Linked DNA regions of Homo sapiens. The protein of the gene in region 1 purifies or fractionates together with the protein of each later gene. This does not show direct contact. Each region holds a gene or a part of one and is shown on either strand. Other genes may lie near its edges.

The links. The genes of interacting proteins can lie anywhere in the genome.
Region 2: the proteins of SLC33A1 (region 1) and GNPAT purify together in Homo sapiens (affinity purification with mass spectrometry; one large-scale study listed by BioGRID and IntAct). This does not show direct contact.

The regions. Positions count from the first base shown.
Region 1 is NC_000003.12:155,830,218-155,834,169, reverse strand, and holds part of SLC33A1 (acetyl-coenzyme A transporter 1), read left to right. Parts: intron 1-128; coding exon 129-313; intron 314-584; coding exon 585-702; intron 703-3,952. UniProt on the Homo sapiens protein: Acetyl-CoA transporter that mediates active acetyl-CoA import through the endoplasmic reticulum (ER) membrane into the ER lumen where specific ER-based acetyl-CoA:lysine acetyltransferases are responsible for the acetylation of ER-based protein substrates, such as BACE1.
Region 2 is NC_000001.11:231,261,469-231,265,211, forward strand, and holds part of GNPAT (dihydroxyacetone phosphate acyltransferase), read left to right. Parts: intron 1-1,254; coding exon 1,255-1,384; intron 1,385-3,743. UniProt on the Homo sapiens protein: Dihydroxyacetonephosphate acyltransferase catalyzing the first step in the biosynthesis of plasmalogens, a subset of phospholipids that differ from other glycerolipids by having an alkyl chain attached through a vinyl ether linkage at the sn-1 position of the glycerol backbone, and which unique physical properties have an impact on various aspects of cell signaling and membrane biology.

The sequences.
Region 1 (3,952 bases):
ATATGATGCTCACTTGTAACTGTCATGGGTCAGTAATAAAATTGAGGTTCTTGAAGAACTTACATATGCATGGAGGAAAATATTTCATAAGTCACGAATTAAAATACTTTTTTGTTTTTATATTGCAGATTGGTTTTTCAGCAGCAGATGCTGTAACAGGACTGAAATTGGTAGAAGAGGGAGTACCCAAAGAACATTTAGCCTTATTGGCAGTTCCAATGGTTCCTTTGCAGATAATACTGCCTCTGATTATCAGCAAATACACTGCAGGTCCCCAGCCATTAAACACATTTTACAAAGCCATGCCCTACAGGTAAAAATGAAATAAAACCTTACTAAATAAGAAAGGGTAAAATGAGGAACATTCATCAATACCACTAATATCTGAGCGTAGAATTATATATATGGAAAAAGATTTGAAAAGCATCTTTTTTCAATATTATTTATATGCACTTTTATCTTTTTAACCTCCTAACAGGTTTAGATACAGCTTCTTTCATATGGTAGGCACACGGATTTCTGTTTTTGTTGTTGTTGTTATTTAAGCTAAAATGGAAGTCAACTCAATGTTTCTTTCTCTATAGATTATTGCTTGGGTTAGAATATGCCCTACTGGTTTGGTGGACTCCTAAAGTAGAACATCAAGGGGGATTCCCTATATATTACTATATCGTAGTCCTGCTGAGTTATGCTTTACATCAGGTAAGCTTGCAGTGGTTTTCTCAGGAAATAAACTGTTCTGTGTAAAATAAGGAAGACAGCTTTCTACAGTTGTCTTAAAATAATGATAATAAATTTTAAGCATGAATCTGACACTGAAGAAATTATTGATGGTGCGCTTTAAACTTTATGACTTTTCACTTAATGAGTTCTGCTGTTCATAGAAAGAGACTTTTTTATTTATTTATTTATTTTTTTCCCAAGATGAAGTCTTGCTCTGTCACCCAGGCTGGGGTGCAGTGGTGCAGTCTCGGCTCACTGCAACCTCCACCTCCTAGGTTCAAGCATTTCTCCTGCCTCAGCCTCCTGAGTAGCTAGGATTACAGGCACGTGCCACCACGCCTGGCTAATTTTTGTATTTTTAGTAGAGATAGGGTTCCACTATATTGGCCAGGCTGGTCTTGACTCCTGACTTTGTGATCCACCTGTCTCAGCCTCCCAAAATGCTGGGAATGCAGGTGCAAGCCACTGCGCCCGGCTGAAAGAGACTTTCTTATTCATTCATTCATTAAAAAAAAAATTATTCAACAAGTATTTGTTACATTTTAGAATTGATTCCAAAGCCAGCAAATTCTACTCTTGCTAAATATTTCTCAGTTTATCCCTAGGTTTCAGTTCATTCTTTCTTGAATTCCTAATATCTTTTCTTTCTGAAAGTATTGAGAAATAGTATTGGTCTTAGTTTCTGGCTTAGCTTCTGCTTTTTTTTTTTTTTTTTTTTTTTTTGAGACAGAGTCTGGCTTGCTTGCCCACTGCCCACGCCCGGCTAATTATCTGTATTTTTAGTAGAGACAGAGTTTCACCATATTGGCCAGGCTGGTCTTGAATTCCTGACCTCAAGTGATCCGCCCACCTCGGCCTCCCAAAGTGCTGGGATTACAGGCATGAGCCACCATACCCGGCCCTGGCTTAGCTTCTATATTGAAAGTTTTGACTTATTCTTTATGATTTTGAAAGCTGTGTCAAGCTGCTTTTTCTTTCTTTGTTAAATATGTTTGTAATCCTTAAAAGAAGGAATCCCCACTTTGCTCTAGCCTAAGCTGCTGTTGCAGAATGAGATTTTTTTTTTTTGAGACAGAGTTTTGTTCTTGTTGCCCAGGCTGGAGTGCAATGGCACGATCTCAGGTCACCGCAACCTCCGCCTCCAGGGTTCAAGCAATTCTCCTGCCTCAGCCTCCAAGTAGCTGGGATTACAGGCATGTACCACCATGCCCGGCTCATTTTGTATTTTTTTAGTAGAGACGGGGTTTCTCCATGTTGGTTAGGCTGGTCTAGAACTCCCAACCTCAGGTGATCCACCCGCCTCAGCCTCCCAGAGTGCTGGGATTACAGGCATGAGCCACCGCGCCTGGCCCAGAATGAGATTTTTTTGTTCTGGATGCAAGTGATTCAAGTAAATGGCAAAGGCCCAGAAGTAACCTTTGGGACTTAACTGCAGTTATTGCTAATGCATATTTCTGAGTCACTTTGGATTTTTCTAGCTTATATCCTTTGAAAGTTATATTTGCTAATGTATGAATTAATTTTTAACTGAAACGTAAAAATATGACTACCAGGTAATCTCAGTAGTTTTGTGCATACAGTAAATCATTTAGGAGAAATCTGTAGTGGATCCTGTCAGACTAAATTCTATGCTTATAAAATTATTGAGGCCAAACTGTCAAATATAATTTTTTTTTCTGTTTTGCACATGCTTAGTTAAGGCTAGATATGTAATAGAAGGTTAAAGAAATACTTTAACTAGTCAATGCTTCAGTATTTCTGTCGGTATGTTATAGCCCAAAAAAAGTATTTATTTAGCTTTGGATTTCATTTGAGAATTTCCTGAAGTGTAATCACTGAAACTCAGATAACCAGATGCTTTATGGGGGAAAAAAGGTACAAGACCAAATAAATTCGAGAAATGATGTATGACATAAGCCTTCTGTAAGTAGTGCCTTAATGATTCCTTCAACAAATTTTTTTTTTTTTTTTTTTTTTTTTTTTTTTTTTGAGACAGAGTCTCACTCTGTTGCCCAGGCTGGAGTGCAGTGGCACAATCTCGGCTCACTGTGATACCTCCACCTCCCGGGTTCAAGTGATTCTCCTGCTTCTGCCTCCCAAGTAGCTGGGATTACAGATGAGCACCACCTCACCCAGCTGATTTTTGTATTTTTAGTAGAGACGGGTTTTACCACATTGGCCAGGCTGGTCTTGAACTCCTGACCTCAGGTGATCCGCCCACCTCGGCCTTCCAAAGTGCTGGGATTATAGGTGTGAGCCACCGCACCCAGCTTCTTCAACAAATATTAAGTGAACACCTATTCCCTGCCAGAAACCATTCTGAGTACTGAAATATAACTTAATAAATCATGCCCAAATCCCTGCCCTCAAGGAGTGTATGTTGTAAATATTTCAAAAGGCATACAATGAAAGGAACCTTTTCAATTTTGTGTAAGTTAGTGTCTTTCAGTCTTATTTGACTTTGGAACTCCTTTTTCTGTGAACACCCCCAAAAACACTATTCAAAGGAATACCATTATTGAAACACAGTTTGTTTCCATCTTTCTAAATTAAAGGTTAATTCTTGCCTTTTAAGTACTTTTTGCCTCTTAAGGATGTTTTTCTCCAGTTTGTCACATAAATTTTGAAATACTTTTCTTGTGTATATGTAGGAGAAAAATATATATATTCCTATTTCTTTAAATATTTGAGTATTTATATATGTAATAAATGCATACATATAAATATGTATATATACACATGCAATATATGATACATATTTAGGTACAGTACAAATATGAGGTTTTGCATTTTGCTGTATGCATTATGTATCCTTTAGTGCCACCTCATCTAACATTTTCTCCGTGGAGTCTTTCTTGACTACTTGTGGTAGAATTAATCTCTCATTTATCTTTATGCCCCAGTAACACAATGTGTGCACTTCTATTTACAGTACTTCCTGTATTTATAATTATTTATTCCCCATTTTCCAGCCTAGAATAAATTCTTCAATGTCACAGAAGGACCAAGGTCACATCTTTGTATTGCTGGGATCTTTTTTTTTATTTATTTATTTTTATTTATTTATTTTTTTTGAGACTGAGTCTCCCTCTGTCGCCCAGGCTGGAGTGCAGTGGTGCGATCTCAGCTCACTGCAAGCTCCGCCTCCCGGGTTCACGCCATTCTCCTGCCTCAGCCTCCCAAGTAGCTGGGACTACAGGCGCCTGCCACCACATCCGGCTATTTTTTT
Region 2 (3,743 bases), on another chromosome or scaffold:
TGGGTCGTGTCAGCAATGCATGGTGCCTGTCGGTTTCATTACTGGAGATGTTTCACTTCCATCAGTTGGTTATCGTTATGACTGCCAGGTTTCTCTGCTGTAAAGTTATTATTTTTTCCCTTTATAATTAATGAATATCTTGTGAAAAGACTCTTTGAAAATGGCTAAATACCCTGTTTTGCATCATACTTTACCCCACTCGTTTTTGCACCCACTGATGATTTTTGCCTGAATTAATTATTATGTTAATGATTGCCAAATGATGACTTTTCTAATTTCATAAAGAGCTTTCCTTATGAAGAGTATTTTTACTTATTTGTGTTTTATATTTTTTTCTTCTAGGAAAGCTCTTAACTTCACTTGCCTTCCTCCTCATCCCTTTTAATATTTTGTTTTAATTCAGTCATTTACTTTCCTGTCAAATATTTCTTCTTCCTACTGACTGTTTTCGAGATTGCTGACTTATACCCTGAATCTGTCAGAGAATGTTACAGTGTTTGGGACCAAGGGTGGTGGTGAGCCATTTCTTAAGTGATGATCACAGATTACCTGGCCTCTGTTACATTTAGATTTCAAAAAAACAGATAACACATGGATACCAGTGAATCTTGAGATTGATGGCCTGAGGAGTATATTTGGAAACTCAAATTATCCCTCCCAGCCACATGACACCCATTCACCCTGGCAGTGAGTCCAGCACATAGAGAAATACCATTCTTCTCACCTTGTCCTATGAATTTGTAGATTTTTTTTAATCTCTCCAAGAGAAGCTTTGTTTTCTCTTACTACAACCAACCAATTCAATACAGTGGTTAACAGTTGGCTTTTTAAGTCAGACTGACTTGGGTTCCATTCACAGCTCTGCCATTTATTGGATGCATGACCATTTTACAAACAAGAAAGCTAAGGCTTAGACCTTGTTAATTATGTGGTATTAAACAAAGCACGTAAGATAACTGTATATAAAATGATGCTAATATAGTGCCCAACTAATATATGTTAGCGATCATCACTGTTATTATTCTGATCCATAAAAATTTACATTTTTAATATTCTTGCATTATGTGAAATTGTTTAACTAGAAACAGTACTTTTACCTTATCAGAGCAAATCGTTTATGTGTATGGCAAAAAGGCAGAAAAAGAGGATGGGTATTCCCTCTAAATATAGACTTATTCTTCCGTTTTCTGATTTGAGATGTGATTTGATAACATGACAACTGAAATTATTCAAAATGTAACATTTACTTTCAAGCTACAAAGAGCCATCCAGGAGCATCCTGTTGTTCTGCTGCCTAGTCATCGAAGTTACATTGACTTCCTCATGTTGTCTTTTCTTCTATACAATTATGATTTGCCTGTGCCAGTTATAGCAGCAGGAATGGGTATGTATTGTTTTTCTGTTTTTTTAACTGTAAAAATTAAAAAGTTCACTGGCATATTCTAGCAGTACTGAGGTATTTGAAGATGATGATGAAAATAGCCTCTCCTCCTTTCTTCCAGTCCTAGCACTGAATAACTTGAGTTATGTCCTTTGTCCTGTGCTTTACTGTGCCTGAACAGACATCTGCAGGAGTTCATGCACACAGGGTTCTTTGGTGTAGGCTTAAAAAATGAGACTGCACTACTTACAGGTATTAGCTGCCTTTTGCTTTTTTTATTTGATAATATATTAATGGCTACCTCTCTAGGCAATAAATAGATCTAACTTTTTAAAGTTTATTTTTAATTGTGATAAAATACATATAACATCAAATTTGCCATCTAAGTCATCTTCAAAAATATAGTTCAGTGGCATTAAGTACATTTACATTGTTGTGCTGCTATCAACACCATCCATCTCCAGAACTCTTCATCTTGCAAAACTGAAATGGTACCCATTCAACACACTCCCCGTTCTACCCTCCCCCTGACCCTGGGCAATCAGCATTCTACTTTCTGTCTCTGTGAACTACTCTAGATGCTTGATATAGGTGGAATCATACAGTACTTGTCCTTTTGTGACTGGCATATTTCACTTAACAGAATGCCCTCAAGGTTCATCCATGTTGCAGCATGTGTCAGAATTTCCTTCCTTTTTGAAGTTGGAAATGCATCTGCTCAAGACCCTGCTTTCCATTTTTTTATATATATACAAAAATGGTATATATGGAATTGCTGGGTCTTGTGGTAATTTTTTTTCATTTTTTGAGGAACCACCATACTGCCTTCCTTAGCAGCTGCACCATTTTACATTCCCACCAAAAGTGCACAAGAGTTCCAGTTGTTCTACATCCTTGCCAACACCTGTTATTTTCTGATATGTTTTATAATAATTTTAATGAGTGTGAAGTGGTATCTCCTTGTAGTTTTGATTTGCATTTCCCTAATGATTAGTGATGCTGAGCATCTTTTTTGTGTGCTTATTGGCCATTTGTATATCTTTGGAGAAATGTCTGTTCAAGTCCGTTATTTTTTAATTAGGTTGTTTGGGGCTTTTTTTGTTGAGTTGTAGGAATTGTTTCTACATCCTGGATATTCACCCCTTATCAGACAGATGATTTGCAAATATTATCTTCCATTTCATGGGTTACCTTTTCACTCTGTTGATTGTGTTATTTGATGCATGGAAGTTTTTAATTGATGTAGTCCAATTGATCTATTTGTTTCTTTGGTTCCCTGGTTCCCTGTGCTTTTGGTATCAGATCGAAGAAATCATTGCCAAATCCGAGGTCATGAAGCTTTTCCCTTATGTTTTATCCTAAGAGTTTTATGGTTTCAGGTCTTACATTAAGATCTTTGGTTTTTTGAGTTAATTTTTGTATATGGTGTAAGTTAAGGGTCCAACTTCATGTCTAACATTAATTTTAATAGCCATATAATATTCAGCAGTGTGGATATTTCATAATTTAGTAGTTTTGCTGTTATAAACAATGTCATAATACATTTTTATATTGGTGCTTTTATTCCTGTAAGATCGATTCCTAAAAGTGGGATTGCTAAGGCATATAAGTTGTTTATCCACTCCCTTTTAGGGTAGCCAGGAAAGCCAGGATTCAAGTATACACGTTTGTTAATAAATGCAGTGAATGGTAAGGTTAAAACTGCCAAGAACTTAAGCACTTTAAAAGCATTTTCATCTGAACAAACTTGTGAGGAAGTTATTTGAAAACTAGGGGAAATGAAGAGAAAGACTATTTTAAAACTGCTGGTAGCAATCTTCCTTTCTTACAAGATTTGCCTTATTTAATCTCTTCCAACAAAAGTAGGTTGATGTTTTTTCCTGGTAGGCAAAAGATGAGAGCGGGTTTGGCCTGGCTGTCCAGAGCATGAAGGGCACATATTGGTCTGTTGTCAGGCTCAGCAGCATGGCTGACTAAAGACATTGACATCATGACATTGTCATGTTGCTCTGCTGTTGCCCCTGGCTCTAGCTGGCCTACTTGTAAAGGGAGTGGTGCATGGAGAAGCACAAGGTAACCTCCCAGTGAGCACCTGGCCCACAGAATCCCTTCTTTTCTATAATTCTATTAGGTATCTCTTATGTATTTTAATGTCAAAGTATAATAATATCATAGGGGTGTCTTACATTTATGAAATCTTTCTTAATAATGTTTGAGTTTAGGCCAGGCACAGTGGCTTATGCCTGTAATCCCAGTACTTTGGGAGGCCGAGGCAGGAGGACTGCTTGAGGCCAGGAAGTTTGTGACCAACCTAGCCAACATAGCGAGACCCTGTCTCATAAAATAAAATAATAAAATATAA